Linked DNA regions of Homo sapiens: region 1 is linked to region 2. The links come from fine-mapping of genetic effects on gene expression. A gene starts in region 2. The other region holds a variant in brackets. All regions are shown on one strand. Distances are from middle to middle.

Region 1 (11,863 bases), 48 kb after region 2:
CCTTGACATCTCTGAGCCTCAGTTTCCAAATCTGTGAAAGAGAGATAATAACACTATCTTTGTAGAGCTTATGGGATGATTAGAAATAATGGGCATGGTTGTCTAGTACAGTGTATGGGAAATATTAAGAGTGCAAAATAATTCTTATTTATAAAAATTTATTGTACATGTACATTTTGTAAGGAAAGATCTGTTATATAATGCAAACCACTCAGATTTCCATGACCTGTTGTCGAGTGTCCTACACCCGATCATAAAAAATTCTCCTCTTACAGGGTCTCATGGCTTCAAGTCTAAAACAGAAATTTACATACATCCTAGTGCCACTGAGGAGAGCAAATAAACAGAAACTGCCATTATCAGTCCACTAAATCTGTAGTTCTCAATCTTGGCTGCACATTGTAATCACTTAAGAAAGCTTAAAAATCCTCAGTGCCCCAACTATACTCCTGAAAAATTAAATCAGAAGTTCTGGGATTGGACCCAAGTATCAGTGCTTATTTAAAGTTCTGCAGAAAATTCAAAGTGATGCCAAGGTGGAGAACCATTGTTTTAAACCATTGCTTCTCACGCTGTAATGTGTGCTGGAATCACCTTGGGGTCTTGTGGACTTGCACATTCTGGTCCTGGGAGGTCTGAAGTGGGGCCTGAGATCCTGCATTCCCAACATTAGGCAATGCTGATGCTGCCAGTTCCTGGACAGCAGCCTTGAGTGGGGCTCTGTTTGGGGTTCTCACTCATCCTATTATGCTTATTTCTTCCTTTCTGTGCCTCCTCTGCACCCTCCAACTCCTCTCCCACACAACCATCCAGTTTTGGGGAAAAGCCTTTCATAAGAGATACTTCTCTTCCCAGGAATTACTTTTTCTGCTGAGACAGGCCCCAGTAATTTTTATTCATGAGAGTAGAATGTTATTCCTTTCCCCTGGAGTGTTTCAAATTGCTCTACTTTTCTTAAAGTGATTTTGATTTATGAGAAATGTATGCTTCTGTTTTCAGTACAAAATGATCATAATTTCATCAGAAAAAGGGAGTTGTTAAAGTATTTGACATAACTCTAACACCTCCAGAAGTTTATTTGACTGCTCTGGAAAGTTTTTAAAGACAATCATTTTGCACAACCAAAAATCAAGAAGGATACTGGTAGTGTTTGTTTAGATTCAAAACGATCAAGAATTGTTGATCCTTCTGATATTTGGATTTGAATCCCTAAAGCAGCTTTAAACCAAACTGTCTGTTTGGATCATTTGGCTAAACTTCACTGGTCAGAATATTACTTGCTGCTCTACATCTGACCTTGACTTAGGGCATAGGAAGCAGAAACTCCGGGACAAATCTGGGACTTGCCCAGTGTATGTTATAGAAATATTCACTTTAGTGGTCTGCAGAGACACCCTTCAAAGAACATAGCCAGGATATTAAATATCCATTTCTTACTTTCTTAGTTTTTTAATTCATTAGAGCTGGAACAGAAGACCAAGAGAATTGTAGGGACCAGCCCCACAGGGTCGGTGGGTTTTTCTCCCCATGTGTGGAGATGAGAGATTGTAGAAATAAAGACACAAGACAAAGAGATAAAAGAAAAGGCAGCTGGGCCCAGGGCACCACTACCACCAAGACATGGAGACCGGTAGTGGCCCCAAATGCCAGGCTGTGCTGATATTTATTGGATACAAGACATAGGGGTAGGGTAAGGAGTGTGAGCCATCTCCAATGATAGGTAAGGTCACGTGGGTCACGTGTCCACTGGACAGGGGGCCCTTCCCTGTTTGGCAGCTGAGGCGGAGAGAGGAGACAGCTTACACCATTATTTCTGCATATCAGAGACTTTTAGTACTTTAACCAATTTTGCTACTGCTATCTAAAAGGCAGAGCCAGGTGCACAGGATGGAACATGACAGCAGACTAGGAGCATGACCACTGAAGCACAGCATCACAGGGAGACAGGCCTCCGGATAACTGTGGGTGGGCCTGACTGATGTCAGGCCCTCCTCAAGAGGTGGAGAAGTAGAGTCTTCTCTAAACTCCCCCAGGGAAAGGGAGACTCCCTTTCCTGGTCTGCTAAGTAGCGGGTGTTTTTCCTTGGCACTGACGCTACCACTAGACCATGGTCCACTTGGCAACAGGCGTCTTCCCAGATGCTGGCGTTACCGCTAGACCAAGGAGCCCTCTAGTGGCCCTGTCTGGACTTGACAGAGGGCTCACACTCTTGTCTTCTGGTCACTTCTCACCATGTCTCCTCAGCTCCTATCTCTGTATGGCCTGGCTTTTCCTAGGTTATGATTGTAGAGCGAGGATTATTATAATATTGGAATAAAGCGTAATTGCTACAAACTAATGATTAATGATATTCATGTATAATCATGTCTATGATCTAGATCTAGTATAACTCTTGTTGTTTTATATATTTTATTATATTGGAACAGCTCGTGCCCTCGGTCTCTTGCCTTGGCACCTGATTGGCTTGCCACCCACATCTGCCCCCTTTTTATTAACTAGGATCGCCATCACCATCATTGCTTGTCGTTGACTTTGGACTTGTTTCCGGACTCCTTGGAGGCATCTGCAGACTAAAAGAGACAACATAAGCATACCAGTATTAATAATGCCAGTGACAACAATGATTCTCCAAGGGGTTTGATCCATTTAAAGGGATTAAGATCAGATAATTCTTTAGTTATTCCTTCAAAAATGTCTGAGCCAGGAACAGTGGATAAATGAGCCTGTGAAGCCTCAAAAATTTGTTCTTTAAGTTTTGAAATATCCAAGGTTAAGTTATCATCCCAGGCTTTTAAATGTCTTGAGAACTTTTCCCAGCTATGCTGATCTTTATTATAAGCATAAGGCATTATGCAGTAATCAGAAGTATTCCAATCACACTGTAATTGCATACGGTGTTCCAAATTCATAACTCTATTTCCCAATCATATCACACGTTGGCAGAGATCATTAATTTGATTAGCTAATTTTTGATCAATTTGAGCCTTAGAATTCCAAAGTCTGGAGGAGTTTTTTTGCCATGCTTCAACACATTGAGTGGTTTGAACGGAATTGTGAATCATAACTCCAGCAGTTGCCACTGTTGCAGTAACCGCAATTAGACCTGCAATGACTGCAATAAGAGTAAAAATAAATCTCTTTGTTCTTTTGAGGATACCTTTAAGAACTTCATTGACTATGTATATAGAGGGGGAAGACTCCCACGGATGATGTAAAGAAACTGGTATCCATACCCCCTCCCTAGCACTTACCAAGAGAATACTTGTTGTGGGATTAAAAGTAGCATCAATGCACGTGAACAGCTTACAATTATCACATTCTATAGTTTGTGTACTGGGAATGATAATTATATTTCTAACTAACAGCAGGTGAGTGGTTTTGACACAACTCCTGATGGGTATTACCTGTTTAGATATCAAGGTGATGTTGAATGTGGGTGTTTTGGTATTAGTGTGAAGGAGTTGATAAGTAGTGTTCCATATCCTTATTCCTGTTATAGCTGCAGCTAATTTCCATAATTCAGGATGTTCTGGGGTAACAATGGGATGAATCATTTTTGGTCTAGGAGGAACAATGCCTGCGTCCATCCATTTAAATGGGTAAGGAGACACCTATTGTCTCAACCTGTATGACTGCCATCCATCCTTTATATAATCTAACAAATAATTATACTCCGAGCATGAGGTATTTTTGCTGGAGCAATCCTGCGAATAATGCTCTTTTGGAGCCCAATCAATAACAGTTCCCATGGCTAGACTTTGCAGCACAATGGCCTTGGGAGCATTACAATCATTCCATAAAATTGAATTCAGTAGAAAAGTTCCCTTTGTAGGTTTCTTTGGGCAGTCTGGCAGTCCTTTTGTTTTATTGCTGTTAGTAGTGACAGGAGCCCTCAATTCCTCAAGAGGCTTAAGTTTAACAGTGAGAAGTTGAAAAGAATTGCTACTGAACACATTATGTACTTGATAAGAATCATTTGTTAAGGATGGTACGGTCCACATCCAATTCTGGTAAGAATAAGCTAAACAGCCAGGTGATACACAGTGGTGGGTATTTATAGCCAAATGACAGATTAAAGTGCATACCTTCTTCTTCCGGTTGAGCTGGAAACCTATCATCATTAGGGACCGGCATGAATGCACTATTATTAGTGTAAACTTCTACTGAGGAGTCCATCCAGGAGACAGACCAAATTAAAGGGGGAAAAGGAACATATGCCCAGTGGGTATAATTTTGAGTTGCCCCAACTGGTGGTATACTTACTGCTGCACTGACTACCATAAAGACAGCCAGAATTATATTACTGGTCGTTTTTGGGATTCCTTTTTCTTTTAATAAATTTTCTGTGTGATGGGATAAGACCTTTATTTGACCCCATGTTGGTGGAGTTGAACGAGTGGTGTTGTAGGTCACACAGCGAGATTTTGTCTCAATGTCGAGGTCATGAAGTTTATGTGTCAGGAGGCGAAATTTCCTCCTCGGTTTTTGAGGGGTCTTTGCCTTTTGTTTCTGGGAACGTTTCATCTTTGGAGTTATGGTGCAATTTCAGTTGTCGGTGGGGGAGACCCACATGGGCTGTAGTCCTTTTCCTGGGGAAACACAAGCAAAACCCCTACCCCATGTTACGACTGTGCCTAATTCCTATTTGTTAGTTGCATCCTTCCACCATACCCGCATTCCTTTTTGTGGATCAAATTTACTTCCAGTGAAATGTTGTTCTGCCACTGTAAAAGGTTGATTTCTTGCTAGGTTTAAGAAATTTAGTGTAAAAGGAGCCAGATTTAACTGAGCATGAGGAGTGGCAGCATCCCTCTGTTTTAGTGTCCTGTTTTCGAAGTTGATCTTTGAGTGTTTTATTGGCTCGTTCCACCAAGGCCTGTCCTTGAGAGTTATAGGGGATGCCAGCTGTGTGAGTAATTGCCCATGTCTGAGTGAACCTTTTAAAAGCAGCACTAGTGTATCCGGGGCCGTTGTCAGTTTTCAGTTTCTCGGGACAGCCCATCACCGAGAAATATGAAAGCATATGTTGTTTAACATGAGCTGTACTTTCCCCTGTGTGACAAGTGGCCCAGATAAAATGAGAAAAGGTGTCAATAGTTACATGTATAAAAAAAGCTTGCCAAAAGCAGGATAATGAGTCACGTTCGTTTGCCAGAGAGCATTCTGTGAAAGTCCTCTAGGGTTAACTCCTGAAGAAAGTGGCTGTAAAATTAACACTTGACAAGTAGGACAGTGACGCACATGGTTTTAGCTTGTTTCCATGTAAGGGGGAACTTTTTTTGGAGTCTCGCAGCGTTGACTTGAGTTAAAGTATGAAAATTTCGTGCATTTGTAAAAATGGGAGCAACTAATATATCAGCTCTGGCATTTGCTGCCAAGAGGGGTTTGGGGAGGGGTGTGTGGGCCTGAATGCGAGTAATGTAGAAAGGAGAAGACCTTGCTTTGAGCACAGACTAAAACCTTTGAAAAAGAAAGAATAGGTTATCATTAGGCAGAAATTTGATTAAGGCAGTTTCAATATTGCGAGCAACATGTGCTACATACGCCAAGTCAGAAAGAATGTTAACTGGTTCAGGGAAATCTTCAAGGACAGCCATAACAGCAAGTAGCTCAGCTCATTGTGCTGAAATAGCTCCTGTATTAAGAACACGTTCTCTTGGTCCTGTATATGCTGCTCGGCCATTACAGGAAGCATCAGTAAAAACAGTGACAGCTTCAGCCAATGGGGTGTTTCTAGTAATGTTAGG[T/C]AAAATCCAAGAAGTGAGGAAGGAACTGAAATAATTTTACATTAGGATAGTGATTATCAATTATACCCGGGAAAGTTGCCAAATGTACTTGCCAAGCGATGCAGGTTGCAAAAGCCTGTTGGACTTGTAATCGGGTGAGGGGAACAATGATTTTTTTTGGTGGGGGGGGGGCGCTTAATAACCTTGTCTTCTAGCTGCATTCCTAAATAGTGATAAGGAGAAGAAGTTTGGATTTTTTCTGGGGCAATAACTAAACCGGCTGCTGCAACTGCTTTTTGTACTGCAGAAAAACAAGATATTAACACAGAGCGAGAATTTGCCGCGAGATCAGCTGCTTGCTGAGCAACATCAGCGGGCTGTAGCTGATTTTGTGCCGCAGGACGGCAGGGAGGCTGTAAAATTACAGGAAATTGCCAGGCTTTGGGATCCCCATATTCTCTTGCCTGTGCTATAGCCCTGATAAGAGGAGTGCCATTTTGAGGAATGTATGTAACTTGTTGCTTGTGAGTGGCAAACTTGGGTAGACGAGATTACTTGCTGAGCAGGTCTTTCATGGGCCTGAAATCCAGGCTGCCACCGGCAACTGTGGACCAGGCTTCAAGGGAGCCTGAGGCTTCAAGGGAACCCGGTTTGTAGAAAAGGAACCAGGCCTCAAGGTATCCTGTGACTCCAGGGGAGTCCGTGACTCTAGCCGAGTCTGATTAGGAGGAAAAGAACCAGGCTTCAAGAGAGCCTGTGACTCTAGCCGAGTCCGATTAGGAGGAAAGGAACCAGGCTTCAAGGGAGCCTGCGGCTCTAACTGAGTCTGATTAGGAGGAAAAGAAACAGGCATGAGAAAACTAGGCTGTGGAGGGATAGGGTTGAGGGCCTCATTACTGGGTAGAACAAGCAGAAGGTTGACAGCCCTACAGCAGGGCTGAACAGGGACAGGGTTGAGATAATACAGGAGGGTTTTTATAAAGTTTAAATAAGCCGAGTACCTAGTACTGGCCTGTCCCATGGTGTCCCCGGAATGCTGAGTGCTCAAGCTTACCACCAAGCTTATTGACCGCAATCCTCAGGAATCTGTCGTCGAAATCCTCTGCTGAGTCCCGCACTCAAGGTGCAACTTCACACAGCGAGGGAGAGCCCCATGTCGGAGCGCCAGATGTAGGGACCAGCCTCACAGGGTCAGCGGGCTTTTCTCCCTGTGTGCAGAGATGAGAGACTGTAGAAATAAAGACACAAGACAAAGAGATAAAATTGGAGACAGCTGGGCCTGGGGGACCACTACCACCAAGACGTGGAGTCCGGTAGTGGCCCTGAATGCCAGGCTGCACTGATATTTATTGGATACAAGACATAGGGGTAGGGTAAGGAGTGTGAGCCATCTCCAATGATAGGTAAGGTCACGTGGGTCACGTGTCCACTGGACAGGGGGCCCTTCCCTGTTTGGCAGCTGAGGCGGAGAGAGGAGACAGCTTACGCCATTATTTCTGCATATCAGAGACTTTTAGTACTTTCACTGATTTTGCTACTGCTATCTAAAAGGCAGAGCCAGGTGTACAGGATGGAACATGAAAGCGGACTAGGAGCATGACCACTGAAGCACAGCATCACAGGGAGACAGTTAGGCCTCTGGATAACTGTGGGTGGGCCTGACGATGTCAGGCCCTCCACAAGAGGTGGAGAAGTAGAGTCTTCTCTAAATTCTCCCAGGGAAAGGGAGACTCCCTTTCCTGGTCTGCTAAGTAGCGGGTGTTTTTCCTTGGCACTGACGCTACCACTAGACCATGGTCTGCTTGGCAACAGGCGTCTTCCCAGATGCTGGCATTACCGCTAGACCAAGGAGCCCTCTAGTGGCCCTGTCTGGACTTGACAGAGGGCTCACACTCTTGTCTTCTGGTCACTTCTCACCATGTCTCCTCAGCTCCTATCTCTGTATGGCCTGGCTTTTCCTAGGTTATGATTGTAGAGCGAGGATTATTATAATATTGGAATAAAGAGTAATTGCTACAAACTAATAATTAATGATATTCATGTATAATCATGTCTATGATCTAGATGTAGTATAACTCTTGTTGTTTTATGTATTTTATTATACTGGAACAGCTCGTGCCCTCGGTCTCTTGCCTCGGCACCTGGGTGGCTTGCCGCCCACAGAGAATGGCTTTTGAGTCAGATGTATCTGGGTTTGAAATCTCAGCTCTTCCTCTTTGCTCCTTTGAGCTCGAGACATGGTATTTTTTTTGCTTATTTGCGTAAATAATTGTTTATTATGATTTCACATAAAAGGAAGTCATGAGATGGTTGGTTCTAAGAGCGGCTCAGAAACTTGACCATGTTATCGAGGCTTTTCTGATCCTATCACATTAACAATGTCATTCCTCATGGGTATAAGATGGCTGTGGTAACTCCAACCACCACACCTTCACAGGGCAAAGTCCTTAGTAGAAAGGGAACATATGTATCAGGGAAAAGAGTCCTTCCCAGGAACCTCTAATAGATTTCCCTCTCATCCACCTAGCCAGAAATAGGCCACAGGCCGACCCCTAAACCAATCACTGACAAAAGAGAGTAGGATTATCACTATGGACTTAAATCAGTCATAATTCATTCCTGAGGGGCAGAATTCACATTGTCACTAAAGAGCACATGGTCAAATTGGAATCCTTTTAGGAGGCAAAAAAACGGTAGGATAATATTGGTTTGACAACTGTCAGCCTCTATCACACCATTGATAAATGTCTTGCCTCCCTGTTCAGACTGTCTCTGAAATAGGCAATTTGACAACGGCCCTTGGGGAAGGAGCAGCAGGCTTGTTACCCCTCAGCTGTTTTTTGTTTGTTTGTTTTTGTTTTTACATGAGAATTTCTTTACCTTGCATCATCAACATTCTTTTTCTTCCAATGAGTATTTCTATTATAATTTTTTCACCATCAAAAACTTTAAAAAAGTTTTTGCCTAGCAGTTGAGAACAGTATGATCTCCATCTCTTTGTCCAAATTCTAAGGCTGAGAGAGTAAACTGTTTATTTATAAATCAGCACTCTAAGTTAACATCAAATTAAGTCTCCATCAGAGAGGAAAGAAGACAGTTTTGCTCCCCTTTAATTAAATATTGTGAACATTTGTTGCTTCCACCAACACTGTGTTACCAGTGTTTTACTGGAGGTGACTGTGTCTTACTTTATATTCCAAGAAGCTAACATGTTTTCTCACTCACAGATGTTCAAGAAAGTTTACATTGAAAATAATCTCTGTACACATAGTTTCACTCAAAGTTACTTGGCAAAGTCATAAGACAAGATTCTTGATTTGGCATTAATTAATTTTGTCTTTTTCTTTTTCTTTTTTTTTTTTTTTGGAGATGGAGTTTCGCTCGTGTCACCGAGGCGGGAGGGCAATGGCACGATCTCAGCTCACTGCAACCTCTGCCCTCTGGGTTCAAGCTATTCTCCTGCCTCAGCCTCCCAAGTAGCTGGGATTATAGGCTCCCACCACCACGTCTAGCTAATTTTTTTTGTATTTTTAGTAGAGATGGGGTTTCATCACGTTGGCCAGGCTGGACTCGAACTCCTGACCTCAGAGATCCGCTGGCCTCAGCCTCAGAAAGGGCTGGGATTACAGACGTGAGCCACCACTTCCGGCCACTTTCTAATTTTTTTTATTATTATACTTCAGGCAGTTTAGCAATGATTTTCCAGTTTGCTGTGAAAGCAACAAGTGGTGTTGGCAGTGTCAGCTCATGAACTGACATTATTTGGCATAGAGTAGGCGTAGAGATTAGTCTGTTTTCATAGCACAAAGGCCCCTATTCTTCCCAAGCTTATTGGTACACATCAGTCCCAGCGACCACGGTTGAGGAATATCAGGGATTTAGGGGCCAGCTCATCACATCTTAAACTTCAGCGATGCCCTGTGTCTGAGTCAAAGCAAGGCGTACGTGCACAGTATCCACTGTAACTTGTTTGGCTGGTTTTCATGGGTTAACCAGTTGACTTTAATGGTCAACACATTTCCCAGTTTGAAAAGTCAAAATCAATGTGTAATACTAGAATTCTTATGAAAATGAAGTATGTAAAGATATTTTGGCCAGGTGCGGTGGCTCACGCCTGTAATCCTGCACTTTGTGAGGCCAAGGTGGGTGGATCATGAGGTCAGGAGATCGAGACCATCCTGGCTAACATGGTGAAACCCCATCTCTACCAAAAACATAAAAAATTAGCTAGGCAAGGTGGTGGGCGCCTGTAGTCCCAGGTACTAGGGAGGCTGAGGCAGGAGAATGACGTGAATCCAGGACGCAGTGCTTGCAGTGAGCCGAGATCGAACCACTGCACTCCAGCCTGGGCGACAGAGCCAGACTCCATCTCAAAATAAAAAAAAAAAAGAAAAAAACACAAAAGATATTTTAGGCAAGCCTGAAGGAAGTGAAAATCAAGAATAGCTACCAATAAGGAACTTTAGAATATATATATATATATACACACACACGTATATATATATATATATACGTGTATATATATATACACGTATATATATATATACACATATATATACGTATATATATACATATATACGTGTATATATACATATATATATACACGTATATATATATACATATATATATACACGTATATATATATATACACGTATATATATATATATATATTTTTTGAAAACGGGAAGCTATGATTACCCTCAGTCTCCATCAGTCACTTGATGTAACACTGCACATTCTCTAGGGACTACCCTGGCAGGGAGAGGGTCTCGGATACATCACAGACTCTTCTGTCTTGAAACATGAACACTGCAGGCCAGTAAGGCGGGGTGTGCACCCATCAGCACCTCTGGGCTGTCCTCCTGACCTAATGTTTTCTTGGGGGAAGGCAGTTCTGTGAGGCGGGCTTGTTCTGGCAGGCTCTGGTTAGGCCAGTCAGTTTGTATCTTTCCAGTCATGCTTAATCTTGGTAGCTCTTGAAATCTTTCCTGACTGGAAGTCCAGAGCATGAACTTTCTTACCTAGGGCCCCATATTTCCAAGGAGTGGCCTTGGGCTTGAAGCTGATATTTTGAGAGTCACACTGAGTCAGAGAGTTGTGATGAGGAGCTCAGAGTTCGCAGCCACATGTTCCGGGCTTAATTCCCAGCTTTGCCTCTAGCAAGCTATGTGACCTCGGGGAGTTGCTGCATGTCCCTTTGCCTCATAGCCTCACTTTCTTTGCCATTGCCACAGGGCTGTAATAAAGATTAAATGAAAATGGTATCTGCCACATAGAAAACACTATGTAAGTAAGACTATCATCACTTGCCTCCATCCCAATTCAGACATGCTGTATATCAACTTTAGCAAATCTAGATGACAAGTAACATCAACTAAGAAGATTGCTGGGCTGCACAAGATAGGGGCTGAAAGAGGCAATATTATAGCTACTTGGTTGTGATCACTATTTTCATCAACATTTTTGTTTTAAATTTTCTTAAGTATCTTATACTTTATTTTCAAATTAAAATGTAAGATTTTGTTCTTTTAAATTCTTTATATATGTGAGGCAGAAGTGTTACATATGTGAGATAAAAAATGGACTCTTTTCAGAATTTAAAAAAAGAAATCTATCGAGAGGCAAGACTTTTCCAATACCAAAGCAAATAGCCAATCAATTTAGTCACAAGACCCCTAGTTTCAGGAGATAGAAATTCTAGGGTTGGTTTTGATTGCTTTCAGTATAATGATCTAATTACCTTATTACATAATATATCCACCTAACATCCATATGAGTTTGGGGTGGGCAACGGCATCACCGCCTCTTCTTTTAAGGAGCACTGCCTGGTAGGATTATTACCTGTGTAGCTGAAAACAGCGATTGTAGTACTGAGGAATTAACCCTAGTTAGAGATTGGGAAGACTCACAAATAGGGAATATGCAGTCAGGATTATTTTTTGACAAGTGAATTATCCAGTTGGCACTACTCAAGTAACACAAGAGTTTCTGATGGTTGGAAATGAGTATAATGTGGATAAAGTGTTGGTGAAACACAGGTGCACATCTTGAGCTAAAAGATAACATTTCGGCTGTTTCTCTGGTCATTAAAAAGCTGCTTACACATCACATGTACACAGCTTCTTAGAAGCCACTTA
Region 2 (11,524 bases):
GTTCCAGCAATGCTGGAACGTGGTTCACCTCCCCCTGCTCTGCATTCCTGCCTAGAGGTGGGCTTGCCTGGACTTACCAGTTGCCTTGTGACCAGAATGAGGCCAGAGGACAGGAAGTGAATTCTAGTACAAATTAAATCAAATGGGTCAGTCATTTAAAGTAACTTCCTGTTATCCAACCATGAGTTAATTAAATGGTTACATATCTAAAAGTGGAAAATTGGGTTCACTCGTTTGTAAATTCAACAAATATTTCACGAGTTCCTTCTCTGCACCTGCTACCGTGCTAGGCACAGAAAGTATAGCCTGTATCTATATCTATAGCCTCTTATTTCTGAGGCCACAAGGTGCACAAAGTGTCATAATGCTAATGATTTTACAAAGAACTAATATATATACATATATCTATATCTATCTATCTATCTATCTATCTATCTATCTATCTATCTATCTATACATATATATACAGGTGCTAACTTCCCTGTATTTCCCAGCCAAAGACAATTTCTCTTGCTTCTGAAATTTCACAGGAAATTTTCTGTAGCTTTCTAATTACTTACTGCTTTCTCTCTCTAACCATATTTTATTTTACTTAATTTGATTACTAGGTCCTTTAGGACAGAATTATTGCTATTTCATTTTTGTGTCTTCTAAAGTGAGTGAATATATGCAGGCATATAGATAAAACATACACAAAATATTGAATACATCCAACATACAGAGAGGTATATTATAATATTAATGGTAAAATTAAGAGCTAAGAGATTATGTGTGATAATTATTTCTTTTTTTATTTTGTATGTACTGTCTAAATCATAGACAAGGAATATATGTTACATCTCTCTCACCCACGTCCCCAGTAAAAGCTACTTAAAAAAAGAACAGAAAGTATCACACTAGAATAGCAAGTGTGTATTTCAATTATGAGATAAGAGTATGTTAAGGGCTGTACACACGGAGAGTCTTTTTAATAAAATATTGTTTCAGCTTGAAGAAGCAATAGAAAGTTACAATTATGTATTCATCTCCAAAACGAAACTGTTTTCTCAAAGTTATGACCTGGAACCTTGGAGTAGAGAAGAGCAGAGTTATATGCAATTACATCACTTCAAGAAAATGAGACAAAGCATCTATAATTCCATCCAGTATCTAGTTCTCTCAAAAAAGGAAAAGAGTTAACAGAGTGATGGTTTCTGGGAAACATTTGGCTCCATACTTTTTCTTAAAATGTGCTTTATTTGCAGAGACAGTAAAGGTCAAGAGTTGGCATATATACAAACTATCACTTAATTAAGTAATATTGGTTGCAGTCAGTGATTGTTGGTTTTGAGATAGAAATAATGTATTATAATCATTGAATCTAAGAGAGGACTAAGCAGAATATGAATCAAACACACTTCTATGTGAGCATGCCACTGCCCTCAGTTCAAGTGGAATCTAATTGGAAATGCCAAAACTTTACTGTTCTATTGCATATTTACATGGTACTAATGCCATGCATTTTATTCTGCTCAAGGTGCCCTCAGGGAGATAAAGAAAGCAGAAACGGTCAGAGAAGCAAATTTGTATTAAGGCACTTAAGGCATCTTGCCACCACTGGGTCTGGGAGGCGCTGCTCAGTCTGCCGACAGCATCTTCTGGAATTACTGGTGTGGTGGAACTCAAAAATTTTCTGCTTCACCTGAGCTTCCCAGTAGAAATTCTTAGGCTGACGTCACAAAGATCACGACTCATTTTTCCTGTTTGTATATTTGCTGCAAAAGAATCGACACTCTCTCCTCTTAAGCTCCTTTACTAGGCTCTAGGTGATGATGAAGTTTTCCTTTAAGTTAACATCCTTATTACTTAAATAGGAGACACTTCATGTTCTACTCCTGAAAGCAGTGGTATTAGTTAAGTTTGGTTGTTGAGATTATGTTATGAAAGTGATGAAATCACTATAATTTATCATTTTAAACATACAAATTAATTTTTGCAACAGAATAACTCTCTAACTGTAATGTGAAAGGAAAATATTCAGAATTCCTTTCTCAGAGGTTTTGTTTTCAAATGGCCTATACTTGAATATTTTAAAAATCTAAGCTTTTATATGAAGCCCATGTAACTCTAGTAACCGTGAATTCCCCACCTACATTGCAATCAATGAATCTATATAAGCAAATGGACTGTCAGCATTGGGTTTCTATCTCAGTTAAAAGTAAAGGATCCTTCTTATTTTAGGAAATTAAAACAAGAATCAGGTATAGAACTTTTAATTACATGCTTAAAAGACTTGTTACATACATGTTACACTATTTTGAATATAACTGGAAAAGTTAATTTTTTCGTAATCATTGCTGGGTCTCTCTGTGTCACTCTTTTCTCTCTTTCTCTCTCTCTCTGATTGACCACAACATTTAATAGTTTATAATAAAATGTTATACACGTGAGAAATAGTAGAATAAATGTAAATTCAACACAATATTCTAATGTATAGATATAAAGTTGTTATCTATCTATCTATCTATCTAAACAGATTTTAACTAGAAAGACTTCCACCCAGTTACGGTTAAGTAGATTAATCTCAAATCAATTTCAAATATGGTTAAATAAATTTATCTCAATTGGGGCTACTATTCTTTATTTAGACATATGTCTATCAATAAATATAAAGGCAAATAACTTTGTTTAAGGATGTATAACAATATGGAAATTCAGCATAAAAGCATATTTCCTCTTTGAAAAATCTTTAATGAATATTGGAACCCTAACTTATTCTAATTCAATTTGATTCCTTTATAAGTTTTTAGCTAAACTGTACTAAACACAATCAGACCCCAGAGGGAAATAACATAGTAAACTTCAGTTAGGTTGGGTTTAGAATTCTATCCACAATTCTCCAGTCAATATCTAATTGTAAGCACACTGAAGAATTTCAACTCTGCAATTTGAAAAAAGAATCCATTAAAACACCAATGATATTAAGTTAGAGTATACTGCAAACTCTTTGACTGCTTTATTTAATAAAATAACAAGATAAAAATGAAGTCAATGGAAATTACTAGTCATAGACACTAAGTTGGTCCCCTCAAGAAAATTAGCAACATTAATAACTAACAACATTGACAAAAGTGCCCTTTAAGTGAAACTTCATAAAATAAAGCCACTTTCCTGTAATTTAAGCTTAAGAGGTAGAGACTGACAAAATACAAGTATTATTCCTTCATGTCTCTTGTCCATCAACACAAATTAAAAACAGCACTTCAATACAAACAATTCAATATGTGCTGAAATATAAAGACATGGATTATATGGTCTAAATTGATGAAAGTTATTCAAAAGCAGTCTCCTTTATAAAACCCAAATGGCATGAATTCCACAATATGAGATTGTGTGTAACTCTCTTACTCTAAAATTCTATTTTCTTTTTAGGAATAACAGATTAATGTAAATGTGAATTTTTCAAAAGAAAACTGATTGAGTAGCAAATATGTCTGAATTTGCCACCACATACTCTATCTGAAAAATGGAAAGAAGCCAGGTCATTTCGTTGCTACCCAGAGAGATGATCCTAGCACACCTGTCACCTGCTTGCCTGTCCTGGATCCAGTCTCCGGGAACCAGTTCAATTCCAGCATCCTAATACACACTGTCTGGTCTCCCTAGTTCAGCTTGCCCTCCCTGATAACGGCCCCTTTGGCAGAGCAGCTTATTCTTAATGCTAACAGTAGGTATCACTTACAGAACACTTGCTGACTGTTCAGTTCCCATCAAAGAAAGCCTTATGTGGCAGATCCTTTGATGATGCTTGTTTTACAGACAAACGTTTGGGGCTTAGGTTAAGAAACTTGAGAGGGGGCAAACTAATAAGTGGCAAAGCCGAGCTTTGAACCTACCACTCTTCTGCTTCAGAATTCATATCCTTAACTCATGCACTCCCATTTAATTATTTATGTTTATTATTTCATTGTTTGGTGAGCGCTTATATTGAAAATTCATTTTTTTTTTGGTGGGGGGCATGCTTTCTGTCACTTTGCAGAAACAAATAAAAGTTGAGCTGAACCCTCAATTAAGTTCTTTCCAGTGCGATGATTCAACACAATATTCTAACCATAAGGATACTCAGAGGAAGGAGTATGCCATCCAGAAGTCTAGTATCTTTGTAAGGCACGATTTTTGCCAGGCACAATTACAGGTGAAGGGCTCATTGAACTAAAGGGAGGAGGGGTCCTATGGTCACATTTACCTCCAAGCCCTTCTCTGCACCCTTTCCCTCCCTTCTTTCCCCTCTCTCCCTCCCACCCTACAAGCTTACCTTGGTTAGGAAAGCATATTCTGAGAAAATCAAAAGGAAAAGGCATGTGTGCGATTCAGGCTGCTATGACACACACACACTTAACTTTGTTGCCTATGGATTCTGCTTTCTAATAACTTGCCCTCAACATGACCCCAGGGAGTGGATTAGAAAGTTTTTTTCCCCATCCCCATTTTTTACCTGTTATTCACACTGTGAGCAGGAGGACCCTTTTCACCATCGTTGTTCGGCTGAACTTGCTTCGCGGTTTGTTCTCGGCTGGGTCAGGAACTCTGGTAGAGGGAAACCAGTGCCCTGTCTCTGCCGGGCTGGGACTCCGCGAGTCACTCACCTGTAGGGGAGGTCCGAGGCCCGCGCGGGCGCAGGGGCGGCGCCTGTCTCCTCCCAGAGCATGGCTCAGCTGGGCGCTTGCAGTGCCCCCGACGCGATCAGCGATCCTGGAGCCCCAGGAGCTGTTAATTATTTCTCCTTTTCGCCACAGCAGGGAAGTGTCAAGAAACCTGAGCCACTCCCTGTGCCTCAGTGCATGTTGGGAGTGTTTACTTTCTTAGGAACAGCTGATAGGTACACTCCTTTGCTCTCTGCCACACTTCTTGAGAAATGAATGGACATTCTAGTTAACGCTTTAACCACGGGATTTGACTGATGTTAATCTCTATTCTCTAGTCCACCCAGACTGTAGGTAATTGGCCTGTGAGAAATGACACCAACCAAGACTGAACGCCATTATTCACGTCTTTCTTTTTAAGATTTTTCTTTTCCAATTTGAGATTTGTTAACTTTCTTTTCCTTGTTATTTTGCTAACACATTTCCCTGCTAGCACTTTTTTTCACCCAGAGCAGCGTTTCGCGCTTCAGGGTGCACCAGGACCACCTATGTATTCTGCTAAACCCAGGTACCATCAACTGTGAGACTCTGATTTAGTAGGCCATGCATACACTTCGGGTATTTATATTTTTTATAAGCTCCACAGAAGAAACTGGTAGACATCAAAGTTTGAAAATGAACATAATGAAACAAAACAGAGGAGATAAATAATAATTTAGTCATTATCTACTGAATTGGATTTGGGGGCTTTGTTTTATCCAATATCTCCAATTTCAAAAGGACACCAAAAAGGCTTAGAAACTGTTAAATGACAGATGCTGTGGAAATATGAAGTACATTTACACACACACACACACACACACACACACAGATTTTTAAGGATCATTGTTATTTTACTGGTTTCCTATGTAAAGCAACTATTCATAATTTTTAAACATAATAGGTTATTTTACAAGTGTAAACCTGAGAGCCCTCAAAAGAAATTCAATCTGATTCCTGCAAAAAGTTCAGCAGGCAGAGTTAATTTCTAGTATCTTTCGTGTTCAAACGCCAGACAAACAGAATGACTCTAGATGTTCAGGTTGCATGTTTGTCATAGCACTTTAAGTAAGATCCTATATGTTCAAAAGGTGAGGCAGGCCAGGTGCAGTGACTCACGCCTGTAATCTCAGCACTTTGGGAGACCAAGGCTGGTGGATCACTTGAGCCCAGGAGTTCAAGACCAGCCTGGACAACATGGCAAAACCCTGTCTCTGCAAAAAAAAAAAAAAAAATTAGCCCGGCATTGTGGGGCATGCCTATAGTCCCAGCTACTCGGGAGGCTGAGGTGGGAGGATCACTTGAGCCTGGGAAGTCGAGGCTGCAGAGAGCCAAGATTGCACCACTGCACTCCAGCCTGATTCAAAAAAAAAAAAGAAAAAATATTAGGCAGTTTATCTATTTAATCTGTGGTGTGCGGAGACCAGGAACTATCAGATTTATCATTATTTGAGCAAATGGTTTTATTGGATCACAATCAAAGATTTTACAATCTTATGTAAGGACAGATGTGACTTAGTATTACTTGCAGATATTAATTCGATCATCATGTTGGCTCCATAACTCTCTGGTATGTGGCTGCTGGTATGGACTGACCTTTGAATGATGACTAGCAGGACCTAGAGTAGTTACAGCTCTCGGTTCCAGGATATCTTGCTCAAATCCATGCTCCACCTCCATTGTCTGTGCTTGAAGTGGGTCATTTGCTTATTGTCAGCATCAGGGCAACATTCTTTTGCATCTTTTACCTGCAAGCATTGGATTTGGGGGCTTTGTTTTTTGCCAATATCTCCAATTTCAAAAGGACTCCAAAAAGGCTTAGAAACTGTTAAATGGCAGATGCTGTGGAAACTTTTACTCTGATGACTGCTTTCCAACTGGTTTTCTAAAGAAAAGTAAAGTTAGAGGCTTAGTGACTTCGTTTTTTAGTGTTTTATCTGTTTGTAAATATGTAATTTTTATTTGATAATATAAAAAGTATATAATTGCACATATGCAATGTGGAAAATCTGAAAAACACAGAAATGTAGAGGACAAAAAGCACCTATAATTCCATCTCTCAAGTATAATCATCATAAACAATTTGTTGAATGTCTTTATTGACTTATTTTCCCTGTGGCTGTTTATCAAAATGCTATTACATTTGGTTTGTTGGTTTATAGCCTGCTTTCATCACATCAAACGTAGTATGAACAATTTACTATAAATCAGTCACTTTTTTTCCTGCAATGTAATTTTAACTAGCTGCTCTGTATTGCACCAAATGAAAATACCGTTACTTATTTAATTATTATGATAAAGTTATACTGTTATAAACAACACTGCAGTGAATGATTACATATGATTCCACACAAGCATGACTACACCTTTTAGATACATTTCAAAAATTGAAGTTACCAGATGTAAGGCAATGTGCATTTTGAAGAATTTCCCTGCTTAAAAAATCTTTGTCAGTTTTATACTCCCAGGGCAGCTAACATGGGTTATTATACTTCTTTTAAACATTTATTAATTTGAAACATAAAAAAATCCATATCTTATTTTAAATATATATATTATCGTACTTGTAAGTTTGGGCTCTTTAGACTTTGCACTTTTGCTTTATTGTTTATTGGACTCTTTGCTCATCTTTTTTCTTATTGATTTATAAATTCTCTTTATATATTAAACATATCAACTCTTCATCATATATGCTGTGACTATATTTTCAAGGTGACTTGTTTACCTTGCAGTCTTGTCTATGGTATTTTTGACATATAAAAGTTTAAAAATGTAAATGGTCGAATCTATTATTTTTCTTTATCAGTTACATCAGTTTTATAAAAGCTTTCCCATCCTTAAAGAATGTAAAAATGCACATATATTGCTTCTTCTAGTTTTTCTAAGATTTAGATATTATTTATTTATTAAATTGAACATTTTAGCCCATCTAGACTTTATTATGTTAATACACCATGAAATTTAGATCTAACTTAATTTTTCTAAGTTATTAGTTTGTTAACTGAGTCATGTTTATTAAATAACTATAGATTATAAAATTTATGAAGGCAAGGACCTTCATAAATTCATAATGTCTTATCCTCTATTTTAACCACTAAGCTTAGCACAGTGACTGGCAGGCCCATGGTTGCTCAGATCAAATGTTTAACTAGCACTCTTGATTTCTTTCTTTCCCTCTTTCCACGCCCAGTAAATGAGCAAGTCCTGATGTTGTATCTCCATGGCTACCACCTTACATCAGGCCAGCATCATCTCTTGCTTGGATACCACAAATGACCTCCGAACTGGGCTTTATGCCTCCCCTCTTATCCTACTACAGTCCATTCTCCACCTGTGGCTAGCGTAATCTTTTATAAGCAATATCCAGACAACAATACCACTTCTGATTTTCTTGGTTTAAAGGCTTTCTAGTGGTTGCACCGCACATCTGGAATAAAATCTAAATCTGAACTGCTTACCATGCCCTACAATGCCCCACATGACTGGCTCATCCCTGCTTCTTCGACCTTTTTGATTTTCTGCTTCCTTGGTACTAACTCTAAACTTGCTACCCTGGTTAATTTTTATTTCTGGAACAGACTAAACTTCTTCCTGTCTCACTGCGTTTGTATTTATTATTGATTCACTCAAGAAAGCTTTGCTCTGGTCATGGGTAGTTTCTTTTCATTACTATGTTTTTTTCCTCAAATATTACCTCCTTAGAAAAGCTTCCTATGACGACTGTATTCGAAGAAGACTTCTGATCTTTCTCTATTATAGCACCTTGTTTTATTGTATTTGTGGCAATTATCATTAGCTAATTATGTTTTATTGTTTGGGGTTACCTCTTTATTTTATGTCTCCTGTCATTAAAATATAAACGCTAAGAGATCAGGAACCTTGACTTGTAGGTTCACTCCTCTATGCTTAGTGTCTAGAACAATGTGTGGTCCCCTGAGGGTCAAGAAACACTGGGTCAAGAAAAAATAGTAACAATAAATAAGCGTTGAGTAAATAAATGTAGATCACACTCTTTCTTGATATGAAATGACACTTTTATCAAATACTGAGGGCATACATATTTTTTGCCTTACACTTCATTTCATATCTGAGGCTGTACTTAAAGAATATGTGCTAGGGAAGGAAAAAAGGAAGCAGAGGCAGTGTAGTTCCAAACAATGAGGGGACTCCCAGTAAAAACCTAGCTGGAAAATTGCCTTAAAGAGGAAGCCAGGCCTTCACAAGGAGGCAATGTGTTAATTACATTTCCGATGTGTAAAGCTTAAAATAAATATATTTTACAACTGGAAATTTTTGCCATAAAGATTTTAATAAATTACAGCAACCGTAACAGATTAAGATTTTTGGAAAATCCCAACATTTAACTTGAACTTGAAGAATAAACCGTCACTTCCTGTTTCAATTGAGGAACATATACTGCTTTTCTGTGAAAACAGACAAGAAATTTAATTAAAAAAAAAAAACTTTGTTGAGAAAAATAAGGGAGGAGAAATTTCCTTTAAAAATATACACAGAACTTTAATTAAAACAGTGCTGTAATTGATGTACAAATCATTTTAAAACTTTTAGATAGTTGATGAATTTTTAAAAAGCCTCACCTTTCCATAGTTATGTATCATAAGATTCAACAGTGACTTTTGAGTAAGGCCATGATTTGTCATGATGATGGGGACAAGTGCAACACAACCATTTTCGCAACTTGAACAATGAAGATTATTTTCATTAATTAATGAAATTAATTTTTATTTCCAAAGCTTTTTCTTCTCTAAGAAAGTTTCTTGTCTGAGAAGCTCTAAGAAACAGTTTCTTATCTTCAATATAGACTGTTTTTCAATAACCTAATGGATAGTGGAAATAATCTAGTTTAGTCATTCCTTGAAAAATTAATCTTTTCCAAGCAGATGCAGAGATGGTACAAAGACAAATAAGACAAAATCTCCTCTCTCAAGGAGCTGACAATCTTCAACCTCAAGAGAAGAAATTTAAAAGCATACATACTTTCAAAATTCAGTGACAGAAAGAAACCCAGATTGTAATGATGTTTTGATAGGCTTTAACAGGTACAAAGAGAAATAATTTTTTTTTTAATGTGAAGAATCATTTTCAAAAAAATGAAATGGGCAGTAATAATTTTCCCACCCCCAAAGTTACTGCCTTTTAAAATTGGTTATTGTATATAAAACATAAAGAAATCCAGTGAAATGTAACAGTGATTGCTGTTTTTCAAAATATGGCACTTAATCAATTTTGATTTTTTAAACTTTGTTGATTTTCTTATTGCATATTTGATTTCTGTTTTCAAAAATTACATTTTATTGTGTATATTTGAGGTTTACCAACATGATGTTGGGAAGCATACGGATAGTAAAATAGTTACTATGGTTAACAAACCTACACAGTGACTTTTTTGGTGATAAGAGCAGCTAAAATCTACTTATTTAACAAAAATTCCAAATATAATAAAATTTTATTAACTATGGTCCTCATGTTGTTCATTAGATCTCTAGACCCATTCATCATACATATCTACTACTTTGTATTCTTTGACCTACATCTTCCCGTTCCCTCTGCCCTGCCCTTCCTGTCCCTGGCAACTACTGTTTTATTCTCTTTGTATTTTGACCTTACTTTTTTCCTTTTTAGATTCTATATATAAGTGAGATCGTGAGATTATGCAAATTTTTCCATCTGTGTCTGGCTTATTTCACTTAGCATAAGGTCCTCCAGGTACTTCCATGTGGATAAAAGTGTCAGGATATACTTTTTTCAGGCTGAATAATATTCATACACACACAAGTATACATATAACATTTTTTCTGTCCATTCATGTATTGATGGACAATTAGGAATTAGATTGTTTCTATATCTTGGCTATAATGAATAATTCTGCCTTGAACGTGGGAGTACAGATATCTTTATGGAGTGGTGATTTCATCTTATTTGGTTATATACCCAGAAGGGGAATTGCTGGGTCATATGGTAATTCTATTTTTAATTTCTTTAAGAATCCCCATTCTGCTTTTCATAATGGCAGTACTAATCTGTATTCCTATCAACAGTGTAGTAGGCTTTCCTTTTCTTGACACCCTTACCAACATTTGCCATCTCTTGTCTTTTTGGTAATAGGCGTCCTTATGAGTGTAAGGTAATATCTCATAGCGGTTTTAATTTGCATTTCCCTGATGATTAGTGACAGTGAGCAACTTTTCATATACCTGTTGGCCATTTTTATGTCTTATTTGGAGAAATGTCTATTCAGGTCTCTGACCCATTTTTTTAATTGGGTTGTTTTTCAGCTATTAATTATAAGAGTTCTTTATAATATTAATCTGTTATCAAACATATAGTTGACAAACATTTTTTCTCAATCCATAGGTTTCCTTTTCAGTTTGTTGATTTGTTTCCTTCACTTTGTTTAATACAATTCCATTTATTTATTTTTGCTTTTGTAGCCCGGGATTTTGGTGTGACGCACAAAAACTCATTGCCAAGGCCAATGACAAGGAGATTTCCCCCTGTTTTCTTCTAAAAGTGTTATGGTTTCAGGTCTTACATTTAGGTGTTTTATCCATTTTGAGTTGATTTTTGTGTATGGTGTAAGATAAGGGTCCAATTTCATTTTGTGTGTGTGTGTGTGTGGAAACCCAGTTTTCCCAGCGCCATTAATTGAAGAGACTATTCTTTCCCCATTGTGTTCTCTTGGTGCCCTTATCAAAAATTAGCTGACTTCATATGTTTGGATTTATTTCTGGGTTCCATATGCTGATCTATGTGTTTCTGTTTCCATGCTAGTACCACACTGTTTTGAATATTATAACTCTGTAATATAAATTTAAATCAGGAAATATCTAGCTTCCAATTTT

Evidence for each region.
Region 1: its variant is fine-mapped to the expression of RASSF6 in nasal epithelium (TOPMed, PIP 0.91).

What each region holds. Positions count from the first base shown.
Region 1 is chr4:73,663,970-73,675,832 of GRCh38, forward strand. No RefSeq gene overlaps it. Among named protein-coding and RNA genes, the nearest start is that of UMLILO, 40 kb to the right of the region's middle. The variant T/C (reference allele first, on the strand shown) is at 5,748.
Region 2 is chr4:73,615,814-73,627,337 of GRCh38, forward strand. It overlaps RASSF6 (Ras association domain family member 6), which reads right to left and starts at 4,623. Exons shown (of 11, transcript NM_177532.5): 1 at 4,475-4,623. RefSeq lists enhancers at 4,097-4,646, 4,647-5,195.